Linked DNA regions of Homo sapiens: region 1 is linked to region 2. Evidence: fine-mapped expression QTL. Tissue or cell type: skeletal muscle. Region 2 holds a variant in brackets; the other region holds the start of a gene. All regions are shown on one strand. Distances are from middle to middle.

Region 1 (8,112 bases), 92 kb after region 2:
AATCAACAGAATATACATTTTTTTCAGCACCACACCACACCTATTCCAAAATTGACCACATACTTGGAAGTAAAGCTCTCCTCAGCAAATGTAAAAGAACAGAAATTATAACAAACTATCTCTCAGACCACAGTGCAATCAAACTAGAACTCAGGATTAAGAATCTCACCCAAACCGCTCAACTACATGGAAACTGAACAACCTGCTCCTGAATGACTACTGGGTACATAATGAAATGAAGGCAGAAATAAAGATGTTCTTTGAAACCAATGAGAACAAAGACACAACATACCAGAATCTCTAGGACGCATTCAAAGCAGTGTGTAGAGGGAAATTTATAGCACTAAATGCCCACAAAAGAAAGCAGGAAAGATCCAAAATTGACACCCTAACGTCACAATTAAAAGAACTAGAAAAGCAAGAGCAAACACATTCAAAAGCTAGCAGAAGGCAAAAAATAACTAAAATCAGAGCAGAACTGAAGGAAATAGAGACACAAAAAACTCTTCAAAAAATTAATGAATCCAGGAGCTGGTTTTTTGAAAGGATCAACAAAATTGATAGACCGCTAGCAAGACTAATAAAGAAGAAAAGAGAGAAGAATCAAATAGACGCAATAAAAAATGATAAAGGGGATATCACCAACGATCCCACAGAAATACAAACTACCATCAGAGAATACTACAAACACCTCTATGCAAATAAACTAGAAAATCTAGAAGAAATGGATAAATTCCTTGACACATACACTCTCCCAAGACTAAACCAGGAAGAAGTTGAATCTCTGAATAGACCAATAACAGGATCTGAAATTGTGGCAATAATCAATAGCTTACCAACCAAAAAGAGTCCAGGACCAGATGGATTCACAGCCGAATTCTACCAGAGGTACAAGGAGGAACTGGTACCATTCCTTCTGAAACTATTCCAATCAATAGAAAAAGAAGGAATCCTCCCTAACTCTTTTTATGAGGCCAGCATCATTCTGATACCAAAGCCTGGCAGAGACACAACCAAAAAAGAGAATTTTAGACCAATATCCTTGATGAACATTGATGCAAAAATCCTCAATAAAATACTGGCAAACCAAATCCAGCAGCACATCAAAAAGCTTATCCACCATGATCAAGTCGACTTCATCCCTGGGATGCAAGGCTGGTTCAATATACGCAAATCAATAAATGTAATCCAGCATATAAACAGAGCCAAAGACAAAAACCACATGATTATCTCAATAGATGCAGAAAAGGCCTTTGACAAAATTCAACAACCTTTCATGCTAAAAACTCTCAATAAATTAGGTATTGATGGGACATATTTCAAAATAATAAGAGCTATCTATGACAAACCCACAGCCAATATCATACTGAATGGGCAAAAACTGGAAGCATTCCCTTTGAAAACTGGCACAAGACAGGGATGCCCTCTCTCACCACTCCTATTCAACATAGTGTTGGAAGTTCTGGCCAGGGCAATCAGGCAGGAGAAGGAAATAAAGGGTATTCAATTAGGAAAAGAGGAAGTCAAATTGTCCCTGTTTGCAGATGACATGATTGTATATCTAGAAAACCCCATTGTCTCAGCCCAAAATCTCTTTAAGCTGATAAGCAACTTCAGCAAAGTCTCAGGATACAAAATCAATGTGCAAAAATCACAAGCATTCCTATACACCAACAACAGACAAACAGAGAGCCAAATCATGAGTGAACTCCCATTCACAATTGCTTCAAAGAGAATAAAATACCTAGGAATCCAACTTACAAGGGATGTGAAGGACCTCTTCAAGGAGAACTACAAACCGCTGCTCAAGGAAATAAAAGAGGATACAAACAAATGGAAGAACATTCCATGCTCATGGTAGGAAGAATCAATATCGTGAAAATAGCCATACTGCCCAAGGTAATTTACAGATTCAATGCCATCCCCATCAAGCTACCAATGCCTTTCTTCACAGAATTGGAAAAAACTACTTTCAAGTTCATATGGAACCAAAAAAGAGCCCGCATCACCAAGGCAATCCTAAGCCAAAAGAACAAAGCTGGAGGCATCACACTACCTGACTTCAAACTATACTACAAGGCTACAGTAACCAAAACAGCATGGTACTGGTACCAAAACAGAGATATAGATCAATGGAACAGAACAGAGCCCTCAGAAATAACGCCACATATCTACAACTATCTGATCTTTGACAAACCTGAGAAAAACAAGCAATGGGGAAAGGATTCCCTATTTAATAAATGGTGCTGGGAAAACTGGCTAGCCATATGTAGAAAGCTGAAACTGGATCCCTTCCTTACACCTTATACAAAAATCAATTCAAGATGGATTAAAGACTTAAACGTTAGACCTAAAACCATAAAAACCCTAGAAGAAAACCTAGGCATTACCATTCAGGACATAGGCATGGGCAAGGACTTCATGTCTAAAACACCAAAAGCAAGGCAACAAAAGACAAAATTGACAAATGGGATCTAATTAAACTAAAGAGCTTCTGCACAGCAAAAGAAACTACCATCAGAGTGAACAGGCAACCTACAAAATGGGAGAAAATTTTCGCAACCTACTCATCTGACAAAGGGCTAATATCCAGAATCTACAATGAACTCAAACAAATTTACAAGAAAAAAACAAACAACCCCATCAAAAAGTGGGCAAAGGACTTGAACAGACCCTTCTCAAAAGAAGACATTTATGCAGCCAAAAAACACATGAAAAAATGCTCACCATCACTGGCCATCAGAGAAATGCAAATCAAAACCACTATGAGATACCATCTCACACCAGTTAGAATGGCAATCATTAAAAAGTCAGGAAACAACAGGTGCTGGAGAGGATGTGGAGAAATAGGAACACTTTTACGCTGTTGGTGGGACTGTAAACTAGTTCAACCATTGTGGAAGTCAGTGTGGCAATTCCTCAGGGATCTAGAACTAGAAATACCATTTGACCCAGCAATCCCATTACTGGGTATATACCCAAAGGACTATAAATCATGCTGCTATAAAGACACATGCACACGTATGTTTATTGCGGCATTATTCACAATAGCAAAGACTTGGAACCAACCCAAATGTCCAACAATGATAGATTGGATTAAGAAAATGTGGCACATATACACCATGGAATACTATGCAGCCATAAAAAATGATGAGTTCATGTCCTTTGTGGGGACATGTATGAAATTGGAAACCATCATTCTCAGTAAACTATCACAAGAACAAAAAACCAAACACCACATATTCTCACTCATAGGTGGGAATTGAACAATGAGATCACATGGACACAGGAAGGGGAACATCACACTCTGGGGACTGTTGTGGGGTGGGGGGAGTGGGGAGGGATAGCATTGGGAGATATACCTAATGCTAGATGATGAGTTAGTGGGTGCAGCACACCAGCATGGCACATGTATACGTATGTAACTAACCTGCACAATGTGCACATGTACCCTAAAACTTAAAGTATAATAATAAAAAAAATTAAGAGAAAAAAAGAAAAAAAATGATATTCATTAATTTTTGATTTCTCAAGCAGACTTCGCAACTGGAGGAAGAATAAAATGACTAGACTAGGAGAATATGCAAACTATTAAGCTAGATTTCCCTTTGTAAATTAAAAAATTAGTACTTTAGTTTATCAATCCATTCTTTGTGGTGTTGGTTTCATGAATCATTTCAAAAACAATGGATCACTCCTGCTAGCTCTAGTCATTTTGTTATTCTCATAGGAAAAAAATTAAATATGAAAATGAATAGAAAAGATATATATAGAAGCCCAAGAAAAAAATGAGCTGACCTCACATGCACGACAGGAAGGGCCACATAAATGGACAATATACAGAGATTTAATTTACAAAACAAAATATAAAATCTGCCTCTCAGTGGTATGATTCTCAAAAGTTCTAACTTTTATACTCAGCATCATGTTTTAGCAACTATATCTTACAAAGTCTGACCGACTTAATCATATCAACTTTAATTTATGAGTCAATGAAGTATATTTCAGGAGGAAACATCAAATGATATTAAAATATTGATGGTTCATCTGCTCCTTTCCCTTATTATTTAGTTTTTCTTTCTTTTTTTAGCTAAACTAATGTAAAATTATATCTAATGACAGCAAGCTTTCCTTTCTTTCGACATAGTGAAAACTTGTATAATTATGAAATTTTTAAAAGGTTAAAGCCTTTGTTATTTATTTTAATTCAAATCCAGTATATTATTATACATATTCGGAGCCCAAACTATTCATCTTCATCTAAACCTTCAATTAAATTCCACAATGCAAACCTCTTGGCTCTAGAATCACGTTTCTTGTTTATTCAACTGAGCCTGTGTCTTGAAAAAGTGTTGAAGTTTGGGGGTTTTCTGGTGAGAATCCACGTTCTGACATCACCTTGGTCGTGACAGTGATTGGCTGTTGGAAGGCAAAGAAGAGTTTATAGCCAGCAAGAGCAAGTGAATGAGTGAGTGAGAGGGCAGAGGAAATACTCAATCTGTGCCACTCACTGCCTTGAGCCTGCTTCCTCACTCCAGGACTGCCAGAGGGTAAGATTTAATAGAACAACTTCATTATCATAAAATTAGACACTCCATAGTTTACATCTCTGAACTTGGCTTTGAATTTTTCATTTAAATGATGTTATTGCATTGTACATGGTTTAATAATTATTTATCATTAAACTGGCACTTCAGATTTTAAATTCTTTCCAAAAGGCTAAACTTATTAACCTAAGCATGTAAATAAGTTCTTAATACTATGCACATAAACTACATTATGCTTCTTACTTTCATTCTCTGCAAATCATAGCTTAACTGTTTGTTTTCTCATTCTGATGCATTCAAGATAACCTGATTGAAATACTATTTTGCATTTGCAAATCTGGCTAGATATATGCATATTTCTCTACAAATTATACCTAGTCTGTACTTCAAGTACATATGTTGTCTTTTCAACATATTAAACATTAGGTTTTGATGTTTCCTATAGCTCTAAAGTCAGAACAGAAAATATATTGTACTAACTAGAGAAATAAATACTCTTGGTAGTTTATCATACCCTTCCCAATAAAACTTGAAATTAAATCCTCAAAATTCTCCTTTAAGAATGTTTGAATTGTTGTCTGGGTTAGTAGTGGTCACTATAGAGGTCTTGGCTTTTTGTTGACTCACAAAGTAAATAAAATTAGATTTATATAGGCAGCCAATCCTGACTACAAGAACTACTTGGTTCTTTGTATTGTTATTATTATTATTTATGCCATCTTTTCATCTGGTTATTTTTATTGTTATGAGAAATTTGTGTAATCAAAACTATTTCTATAATTCTATGTATCTAAGCTTTTAGCTCTTTAAAATATTATAAATATTCCGACCCTTCTCACAAAGTGGCAAAGCAATAATCTTTCTGTTTTGCTGATGGGCTTGGTCACGGCTGGCAAAGTTCAAAGCATTATTTAGACCACCCCGATAGAAATCAGTGCTGCTTAAAAAGATGGGCTCCTTCAGGAGCAAAGCCTGTTTATTCCCAAGGGGCCATCAAGACCTTTTACTAAGATAGGACTGTGAGAAACTGTCTGGGCACCAAAACCCAAAGACTCACTCTGACACACAAAAAGAGTGTGACTTAGGACCCAAGACAGTATCTCCAGGACTTAGTGTCAGATACTCAGTAAGGATGCAATAAATCTTGGCTGATGATGACACAATACACAATTTACCAGCAGGTTTCAATATATGACATTGGTTTGCACATTTTAAGTATTATTTTCAAAATGTATTCATGGGAAATTGCCATCACCACTACATTTTGCTTCCAAAATATTGCCAAAGCTGTGACTGTGTATGAGAAGGTGCTAACAGTTAAATGTGTATGTAAATGTAAATGGCTGAGTGTTAGTAGGCTTTCAGCTAAGCTTGCCCAACTTCTATTATGATATAATTTTAAATACAATTTTATTAAATAGAATAAAATTAAGATAGGATAGCATTTCACTATCTCCTTTTACTCATGAGGAATTTATGTGGAACTGAGGCTCTTTTTATGGCTGCAATCCCCAAGATTATTCAGGCCCTATTCCCACTTTGAGAGCTGCATCTTCGATTGTTCCATAGAATTGAAATTTTCATCCATGTCTGTCACCCTAACCCTGGAGAGCCCCTAATCCATCCCAGTACAGTCTCATACACTAGCAGATGGAAAGCTTAAATGGAGCTGGAGAGCAAATTAATTTGAGGAAATCTGCCCCCGATATCTCAAGGCGAAACTCTGAAGAACTCCTCATGGAAGCATCCTTAGCGGAGTTGCTGTTGCGTGCTACATGATGTCAGTGTGATATTTCATATATTATGGATCCTCTCTGTCTCTCTGTCTCTGTCTCTCATCCACCCACCCATACACACACACACACACACACACACACACACACACGCATATACACACACACACACACCAATTATTCCAAGATGTTCAGAGGAAAATTGCTCCTACTTTCCATTTTACAAATAAATTTTTAGCCCAAAACCTATATAGAAGCTGGAAACCGCCTATAGGGTATCAGTGATTTTTGCTTTTTTGTTTTATTTTTGAGACAGGATCTCACTCTGTTGCCCAGGGTGGAGTACAGTGGTATGAACACGGCTCACTGCAACCTTGGCCTCCCAGGCTCAGCCTCTCGAGTAACTAGGCCTACTGGTGTGCACCACCATGCCAAGCTAATTTCTGCACTGTTTGTAGAGGACAAGTTTCACCATGTTGCCCAGGCTCATCTCAAACTCTTGGACTCAAGCGATCTGCCCACCTTGGCCTCCCAAAGTACTGGTTTTAGAGGCATGAGCCACCATACCTGGTCGAGTTTTTAATTGTAAACAAACAAACAGGGCACACAACTACACTAACAATTCAATTCACTTAGCTGACACTCCATGTCAATATTAAGAGGGCCATTACGCCAGTGTGAAGTACCCTAAGTAGTCAAAATCTCTTGCAGTAATGAAAAGGTCTTCCATTGAGAAATCACAAAAAATAGGTTAAAACCAAGTATGGAACTCAAGATTATTTAAACGGATGGGTTAAGTCAGTCTTATATTACTTAAATGGAAGGAATAATTTGAAAATAAAAGGAATAATTTAGTTTTAATTAGTCAAAGTGATAATTACACAGAAATGAAAACAAATTAAATACTTCATCTTTGAATATGAGTAAAAAAGTTATGCTCTTAGTTTTAATATTTTATTAACCTTACCACTTCATTAATTCCAGAAGCAATCACCAAAATGAAGACTGCTTTAATTTTGCTCAGCATTTTGGGAATGGCCTGTGCTTTCTCAGTAAGTTCTTTATCAAAACCCACAGTTATTTTCAGTTTTGTCTTTTTATGTAAAAGAAAAATTATGCAATAATTAAATGTTCTTTAAAACAGATGAAAAATTTGCATCGAAGAGTCAAAATAGAGGATTCTGAAGAAAATGGGGTAATTAATTTTAGCATACTTCCTTGGCCTGATTATACTTGCTGTATATTTATTGCATATTAAACATGAATATATCATTTATTTTGTTTTTGCAGGTCTTTAAGTACAGGCCACGATATTATCTTTACAAGCATGCCTACTTTTATCCTCATTTAAAACGATTTCCAGTTCAGGTAAATATAGAAATTCATTTTTCTTCAGTTTAATTTCTATTATAATTTAAAGGAGATCAAATTTTAACTATAAAACACCTAAATTCAACTCTCACTGAAATTCAGTCAAAAAGACTGCTTACTATAAGAAGTTTGTTTTTAGGGAAATAAGGTTTATTTCTAAGTTCTCTTTTAAGGCAGACATATACACAGAGTAAAATCATTTGGATCATTTGGGTACAGTCTAGAATGATATAATAAAAACAAACACTGTAGCACATTGAGCTCTGGTATTTTTGCTAACTCACAGACAAAAGTGGACAGTTTTATCAGTTGTTGACCAATTCCATCAGTGATAAGGTCACTGGCTGTCCTATTACAGCTGATTCAATACTGTCAGATAGCTGTTTACATGTGGCACTGCAGAGTCCTTTAATTGGTAGGGGAAAATTTGACTTCATAAACATCAGAGGCCATTGTTTTTA
Region 2 (8,112 bases):
TTGCCATTTCTTCCTCATATTTTTTAAAAATTCTCCATACGGCTAGTAATTTTTAATTTTTAAGCCTGACATGGGATGCTATATTGTTGAGCTTCTGAATTTATTTGTCTTCCTATGAAGAATATTGGATCTTATTCTGGCAGAGGATTAAGTTACTGGCAGCTCAGCTTGATTCTGCTGAGGGGCTTGGTTTTCAGCTTTGTTAGAGTAGGCCTAGAGTACACTTATGCCAGGGCTAGAGTAGTCCCTACTCCTAAATCATGATCTTTCTGGGGCCTCAATTTTGGGTTGTTGGCATTCCCCTGTCTCTCAGCACTATGTATTCTCTAGTATTTCCATTTAAGCCACAAAAAGCAGCCCAAAGTATCTGCTTTTTCCTAGGCCTCTTTGAATTGTACCATATGCATGCACAGGCATTCAGTCAAAGACTTAACAGAGGATATTGATGCAGATTCCTGGGGACTCTTGTCTGCTAAGCTCCTTTATTTCTGGTAACCTGAGATGCAAATTTCAGCTCCTTCAGTAGTCCTAAATTTCAATCTCCCTTTTATATGGCCAGCAAGACTGTTGCTGTCTGCTTAAACTCCACTTTTTGGGGTCACAGTTTGGAAATTACTCTCAGATAGTAAACTATAGTAAGTAAGGCATCCACCTATGCTTTATGTCTCTCTCAAGGATTATAGCCCTTGGCTGTCTGTTGACCAAAGCCTGGAAAAACTTGATTAATATATCTTATACAGTCTCACATATGTAAAAGTGGGAGAATAAGTCTAATATCTATTCCTTCCATCATGTCCAGGGCCAGAAGTTGGATTTTCAAAAATGTTCCCCACCAGCAATCTCTTCCAATTCCAGTTCCTTTCATAGACTGGTATTAGTGGAATGTTAGTTCAGCTTATTTGACAAGGACATGAAAAATGTTGGTCCACAAGACAGAAGCTTATTTCTGTTCCATGTAAATTCCTACTTGAATGGGAAGTTCCTTCTGTAAAGTTGCCAGGGGTCTGAAGTCCTTCTCTCTTGTGGATCTACTACTCCTCGAATCATGCTTATCTGAGAGGGCTCACTACTTTGCTCTTACTCTAATTTGTTGGAAGGGAGAAAAGCAGAAGGAAAGAGTACACCCTTTTCCTTGAAAAACATGAGCCATAAGCAGCACATTACTCAAACCCCAGAGCTTAGTCTACAATGGGGGCTGGGAAATGGACTTTTCATTCTGTACAACCATGGTCCCAGCTAACACTCAGGAGTTCTCTTATTAAAAAAGAAAGAAGAGATATTAAATACAAGTAGTATCACTGCCATGACACTACTTTCATTAGTGGATATGTATCTTAGAGACTCAGTAAAATACCATATTCTGTTCTTTTATTTAAATTAGATGTCAAGTTTCTATCTAGTTGAACTGGTGGAAAGTTCAACTTCACTCATTCTTAGCAGCCACTTCCCCGGCTGTGATTGTGCTGAGTGTCTAGGGGAGTATCAAGTTTTGGGAAGTCCCTCAAGTCATCGGTCATGAGGCTACACTGATTTCTGCTAAGATTGTAGCCCCAGCCTGTAGAGCTGCAGAGATCCTTCAATTTGATGCTCTGCTGCTCCTCGCCTCTCTTGGCATACAATATCTTCAATGAGCTACAGCCACAAGCCTAGGATCCTGCATGTCACATGCAGCATATGTCCATTTATCTGTACTGCTCTCAAACCATCAGCCTCAATCTAGTTCTCAATCCAGAAGAAAACTTTCTTTTTAGCCTGGGAAATCTCTCTCTCCTTCTCTCTCTCTCTTTTTCTCTTTGTATGTCTTGTTGTCCAAGAACCACCTCCTCAAACTATTCTTTCAGTGAATTTAGGGTTTTAAAAACAAAAGCCAGGAAGTCATGTCTCAAACTCTCCTCAAGGCAAGGAACATGTGAACCTCTTACCTATATGAATAGGGGAAGGGAAGAGGGAAAATAATGGGTAAAAACATACATTATTAACTAAAAGAAAAATACCACCAGAGTAGAGTGATTTCCTAAAATCAGCTCAGATGATGTTCTTTCTCTTTTTTTCTTTTTCTTCCTTTTCTTTTCTTTCTTTCTTTACTTTTTATTTTTTATTTTTTATTTGAAATGTAGTCTTGCTCTGCCACCCAGGCTGGGGTGCAGTTGTGCAATCTTGGCTCACTGCAACCTCCACCTCCTGGATTCAAGCGATTCTCCTACTTCAGCCTCCCAAGTAGCTGGGACTACAGGCACACACCACCACAACCTGCTAATTTTTGTATTTTTAGTAGAGATGGGGTTTCACCATGTTGGCCAGGCTGGTCTTGAACTCCTGACCTCAAATGATCCAACCACCTCATCCTCCCAAAGTGTTGGGATTACAGGCATGAACCACTGCCCCTGGCCTCAAATCATACCCTTTCATAGGTTATAGTTCTCCATTTTCTCCCCACCCCATCTCTTCATCACCTTGACATCCTAGTGAACAGCCAGATCCGCCTTCACTTAACAGCATAACTTGTCAGCAGGGAAAGTATGCCTTTTACAATTTGGATTCAATGAATGCATTTTTAGCTTCATCTTGTGCCAAACTGAAACTTTTCTATTTTGCTTTGTGACATTTTTTGCCTTTTATACTTCCAATTTCTTCTGCTTGATATCTCCTACATGGCCTGCTTTCCAATATTTCATCATGAAAATTTCTGTTCATACTTCAAGTCTGGCTAGAACACTGTTTCTGCTGGGAAGTTTCCCCTAGTACTTCCAGGCATCTTGGAGTATTTAGGTACCTGAGCCCTTTACAGTGCGCTCATGCACAGTTGAAGGCTCCCAGTAAATGAGACTCCTGTTCCAGACCCCCACTGCCTCTTAGTCTAAACAACACCTAGAATACTCATTGTTAAATGCCTGTTTCATGCACTGGATTGTGATCCTTTCAAGGGCAACATGATATCTTATCACAGATGTGTTCTTGCCTGACAGTATACGTGGCACATGAAGGTGCTGAAAGACACTGTATTAGTTTCCTAGGGCTGCTGTAACAAATTACCACAAACTGGTAACAACACAAATTGATTCTCTCCTAGTTCGGGAGGCTAGAAGTAGGAAGTCAAGGCTCTCAAGGGTCTCCCACTCTCTGTCTAGGGGAGAATACTTGCTTGCCTCTGCCAGCTTCTCACAGCACCTGCTGTTCCTTGGTTTGTGACTGCACACCTCCAGTCACTGCCTGCATCTTCACACAGGCTTCTCTTCCCTCTCTC[CCT/C]CTCTCTCTCTCTCTCTCTGTCTCTCTCTGTCTCTCTGTCTTCTCTTCTGCCTTTTATAAAGACACTTGTTGTTGGATTTAGGGCCCAGATGTAATCCAGGATGATGTTATCTCAAGACTCTTAACTATGTCTGCTGCAAAGACCCTTTTTCCAAAGAAGGCCACATTCACAGGTTCCAGTACACATATCTTTAGGCAGCCCACTAAAAATGCTTTTTAAATGAATGAGTAAATTAAAAAGTGAACTGTATATATACATGTATTTACATGCACAAACGATGAAGACAAGAGATATTACTTTTTTACATCTTTGTTACCTTCTATTTGTAAACTCACTTTGTAGATAATATATCATGCTTGTTGCTCTGTGCATGATGAGAGTTCTGTTACGTTAAGTAATCCCACAATTCAAAAATGAGTTGTTAAAGCAAAAGACACAATTTGGAAATCTATACAATCATTCTAACGATATTTTCTGACACAACTTTGTCTTTTTTCAAAAAAAGCATGTAAGACATAAATTGAGAGGTTACTATATGAATAAAAGAAGGGTTTTCAAATAGGCATTTCTACATATAGTCACCTTACTCTTGGTCCCTCAAAAAAAAGTCTACTTTTAAAAACAGGGCTGGTAAGACTGACCAGTGTTTCTTTTTGTGGAGAGTTATATTTGTATATTTTCACAAACAGAACAGGTTGGGCAGTTACAAACATAGAAAAATATAATGAAAAGATCCAGATTCATTTTGTTTGGTTTTAATATAGTCTTTTTCTCTTTCCACTTTCAATATGACTGAGAGATTTAATTTGAGTAATACCACAGGAATGTAGTTTCAAGAAGGAAAAATGTTCAAATAACCATCTCCCTCTTCCTCACTTAAAAAAAGAATAATTTGCTATAATATATGTTGAAAGGTTTTTGAGATATTTCCTTTTTGCTGGCATTTGTGTCCTTTCTTATGTAAGCAAATAAATAGAAAACATTGAAACTTAAATATATTTCTCAAAAGAGGGTTTTATGCAAAATACAATTGTTCTTTTTTTATTTCAAAACAATAGCACCAGTTAATATTATTATAAAAATAATAAATTTAATATGTGTATATCTTTTTTGCCCACTTCTATATTTTGTTTCTCAATGTGATTTCTTCTGAGATACATATTGGATTTTTCTGAGAAACTCATGAGTCTTTAAAAATAGCAGATTGGAAACATGGCGCATTGGATCCCAAGCCTTTACTTTGGGAGCACATGGGCAGCTGGGGCACCAGGACACTATTCTCAGTACTTAAGAAGGCCACAGCTTGGGGAAAGGGGGTATACAGAATTGTCACAGGCATGATCCTTCTGTTCAGTTTTCAGCAGAATTGACAGGCTCAAAATTACCTTTTCTCCTTCCCTGCAGCCTCTAAAAGCTTTGCATAGTCCCTTCACAATAATCCCCTTTTATATCAATCTCTCTCCTTTTTTCTTCAAGTCTTCCAGGTTGTTCTAGGACAGCCAAGATTCACAAGCAGTATATTGTCGCTTCTTTCCCTAGCACTAGAGGCAGACTTCGCTAATCAATCACAATATTCTTCCTTGTTAGGCCTAGATTGGGTCTCAAACACAGGCTTCCGGGGGCCATTTCCTTGCTCAAATTGTACAAGAGACACAGATTTTTGACATTTTTGCCCTAGTTCATGAGATGGTGTCCTTATCATGCGTAGCTCTTGCTAAACTCTTTCCCCAGGGAGGCAGTATCTTGCTTCCTGTAATCTCCTGCTGCTGAGAAGGCCCCTGCTTGGAATCACAGTTCCACCACCTGCCTAAAGCAGTGCCTGCTGCCTGGGCTCCCCCATACCCTGGCCTGCTTGCTGGATCAGAGTCCCTGGTAGAAAGCCCCTCCTTGGTCAGATCTGAGACTCCTACCCCTTTTGACTACTGTCTTGGATTCCATGGTGGGGTAAGTCTCTTCATCTAGGGGCCTTTTCCCTGCGCCTGGCCTCCCTGTTCTGGCTTCCACTGTATTTCTAGTGACTGGGATTCCTGGGATCTAGACACATTTTGTTCCAAAGGACCCCTGCTACAATGCTCAAAAATCAGTCCCAGTTGTTTCATTTACAATACACATTTTTGTTAGGATTAAATGCTGTAATTCTTATGAGACAATTAACATGGTTCCTATCACATAATAAGCACTCAATTAATATTAGCTACTATAAGTTCTGTTATAATTTTCATCGTCATCATCATCATCATGATCATTTCTATCAGGATCTCCATCTTAATTTGAGAAAGGCTTTTTCTGCAATAATCAGGAACAGGACAAGTCCCAGAGACCATCTGGCTGCTAATGGACTGGAGACAACATACCTAACAAGTGTTCAAATTGGAGCCCATAGCAAACATTAATGATGGTCATCTTTTACTGAGAGCTCTGTGTCAAGAACTTCCCACATAGTATCTTAATTAACCCCCATAACAACCAAATTGTGTGGGAGTTATAACTCCCATTTTATTGATGAGAAAACGCAGGATTAGTGAATCCCATGCCTAACAAAAACGATAGTGAAACTGATATCAGATCCAGCCCTTTTTAAACACAAAACTCCATTCTTTTTCTCTTGAACATGTTACTTCTCTACAAACAGCCTGAATCCTGAAAGCAGAGCTTACTTTCTGGGCTTCCAGCTAATCAAGTCTGGTCTTATGGCCTGCGTGTTTCCTGCCTAGCCATATCATTAGGTAATTCCCGAAACTTTCCTCTTGTATCCTTACCTTTTGTTTTCTTTCTTCTCCTCTTCTAATCTGGCAGCCACACTCCTACTTCTATTTGTTCTTAGCCACTCTGGTTCCAATTTGCACCATCAGCCCTAAAGATCCAAACCAAGCTTAAATCCTCCATTTAGTCTGCTTAGACTATTATAGCCCACTTTCAAGTGATTTAACCCTCTCCTTCAAATTCCTTTTACTCTCTTGTTATCTGCATTTAGTGCCACACAATTATTATTCTTAGTTATTGCCTAATTATTTCAAATGTGCATTCATTCAACTACTACATGTTTAAATACATATTATAAATCAGAAACTGAGTTAAGCAACATATATGGAGATATATAGACAAGTATGCTATTACAAAACCCTTAAGGTAATATTAGTTGAGCAAATAAGAAATATAGACAAATAGTTATAGTAGTGTTTTGAGTTTAAAAAGTACCATGAGAAATAAAGACAGCTAAAAGAATTCAGACAAGGGAAGGCTTACTTCTACCACGAAGGGAATGAGGAAGAAATAATGATTCATTTAACTGAGGTAGAAGATTCTGATACCGAGAGAGAGAGCACTCTGGCAGGCACTGCCTGACACAGGCGTGGAGTCTGGTGAGGGCACTATCAAGGACTAATGAGCCACTGTCGTCTAACTGTGCTTTAGAGTGTCTGGAGGAGAACTGTGGGATAGTGTACATGGAGGAAGTCCTTAAATACCATGTAATGGTATCACTGGTTAAAAGAGGGGGTCACTGGAAATTTTTGAAATGATATAGTCAGAACTGTTGTTTTTGCCGGGTGCAGTGGCTCACACCTGTAATCCCAACATTTTGGGAGGCTGAAGTAGGTGGTTTGCTTGAGCCGAGTAGTTCGATACCAGCCTGGGCAACACAGCAAAACCCTGTCTCTACAAAAGATACAAAAATGAGCTGAGCATGGTGTTCATGCCTGTGGTCCCAGCTACTCGAGAGGCTGAGGTGCGAGGATCACCCGACGAGGCTGCAGTGAGCCATCATGGCGCTGCTGCACTCCAGCCTGGGCAACAAGTGAGACTTTGTCTCAAAACAGAACAAAACAAAATTGTTGTTTTGCATCCCTCCCCCTAATTAACAGAAAGTCTATTAAAGTTTAAAATCATGTTTTCATATTTCATTCACATTTCCTTAGAACTTGGCACAACTGTGGACACAAATAAATATTTAATAAATAACCAGTGACTGATAAGAAGCAGTTACATATTATAGCTCTTTTATATATTTGCTTATCAATTTTCATGTTCATTTTAATTCTAACTAAAAAGAAACTAGAATTTTTTAAATTAAAAAGTGTAGAGTCTAATTAGGTGGCATGATATTTAAGCAAAACAGCCCTTTGCCTCTGAATCAGTCCACTGACCTACAGATACCATTACAGGTGTTAACTTCAGCTTCAAAAATATTTGTTATAAGATGGTAAACTCCAGATAAAACATTCCTTAAAACATGACTTTAGTATTCATTATATTACCTCATTTTTTCTCCAGTATGGATTTTTAAAATTTGTTTGCAGAAATTTTTTTCCCCAAATCTTACCAAGTATCTGGAAAATCTTGTCTTAGCCTTTATCTTTGGTTTTAAAAGTGTGATTCAAATCATTTTACATACTCACTTTTAACGTTATGAAAAAGCTATCAGGGACAGGAGCCAAGATGGCCGAATAGGAACAGCTCCGGTCTACAGCTCCCAGCGTGAGCGACGCAGAAGATGGTGATTTCTGCATTTCCATCTGAGGTACCGGGTTCATCTCACTAGGGAGTGCCAGATAGTGGGTGCAGGTCAGTGGGTGCGCGCACCGTGCGCGAGCCGAAGCAGGGCGAGGCATTGCCCCACTTGGGAAGCGCAAGGGGTCAGGGAGTTCCCTTTCCGAGTCAAAGAAAGGGGTGACGGACGCACCTGGAAAATCGGGTCACTCCCACCCGAATACTGCGCTTTTCCGACTGGCTTAAAAAATGGGGCACCACAAGATTATATCCCGCACCTGGCTCGGAGGGTCCTACGCCCACGGAGTCTCGCTGATTGCTAGCACAGCAGTTTGAGATCAAACTGCAAGGTGGCAGCGAGGCTGGGGGAGGGGCGC

What was found. PIP is the estimated chance that this variant, and not a neighbour inherited with it, causes the effect.
Region 1: IBSP starts here. The variant in region 2 is fine-mapped to the expression of IBSP in skeletal muscle (FUSION, PIP 0.95).

The regions. Positions count from the first base shown.
Region 1 is chr4:87,795,084-87,803,195 of GRCh38, forward strand. IBSP (integrin binding sialoprotein) reads left to right here and starts at 4,471. Exons shown (of 7, transcript NM_004967.4): 1 at 4,471-4,550; 2 at 7,265-7,332; 3 at 7,425-7,475; 4 at 7,571-7,648. The coding sequence starts at 7,279. RefSeq lists promoters at 1-4,528, 3,541-4,528, 4,146-4,619, a silencer at 1-3,541 and cis regulatory regions at 4,059-4,068, 4,270-4,276.
Region 2 is chr4:87,702,705-87,710,816 of GRCh38, forward strand. All of the region lies in intron 2 of DMP1-AS1 (DMP1 and DSPP antisense RNA 1), which reads right to left. Among named protein-coding and RNA genes, the nearest start is that of DMP1-AS1, 26 kb to the right of the region's middle. RefSeq lists an enhancer at 7,959-8,112. The variant CCT/C (reference allele first, on the strand shown) is at 3,245.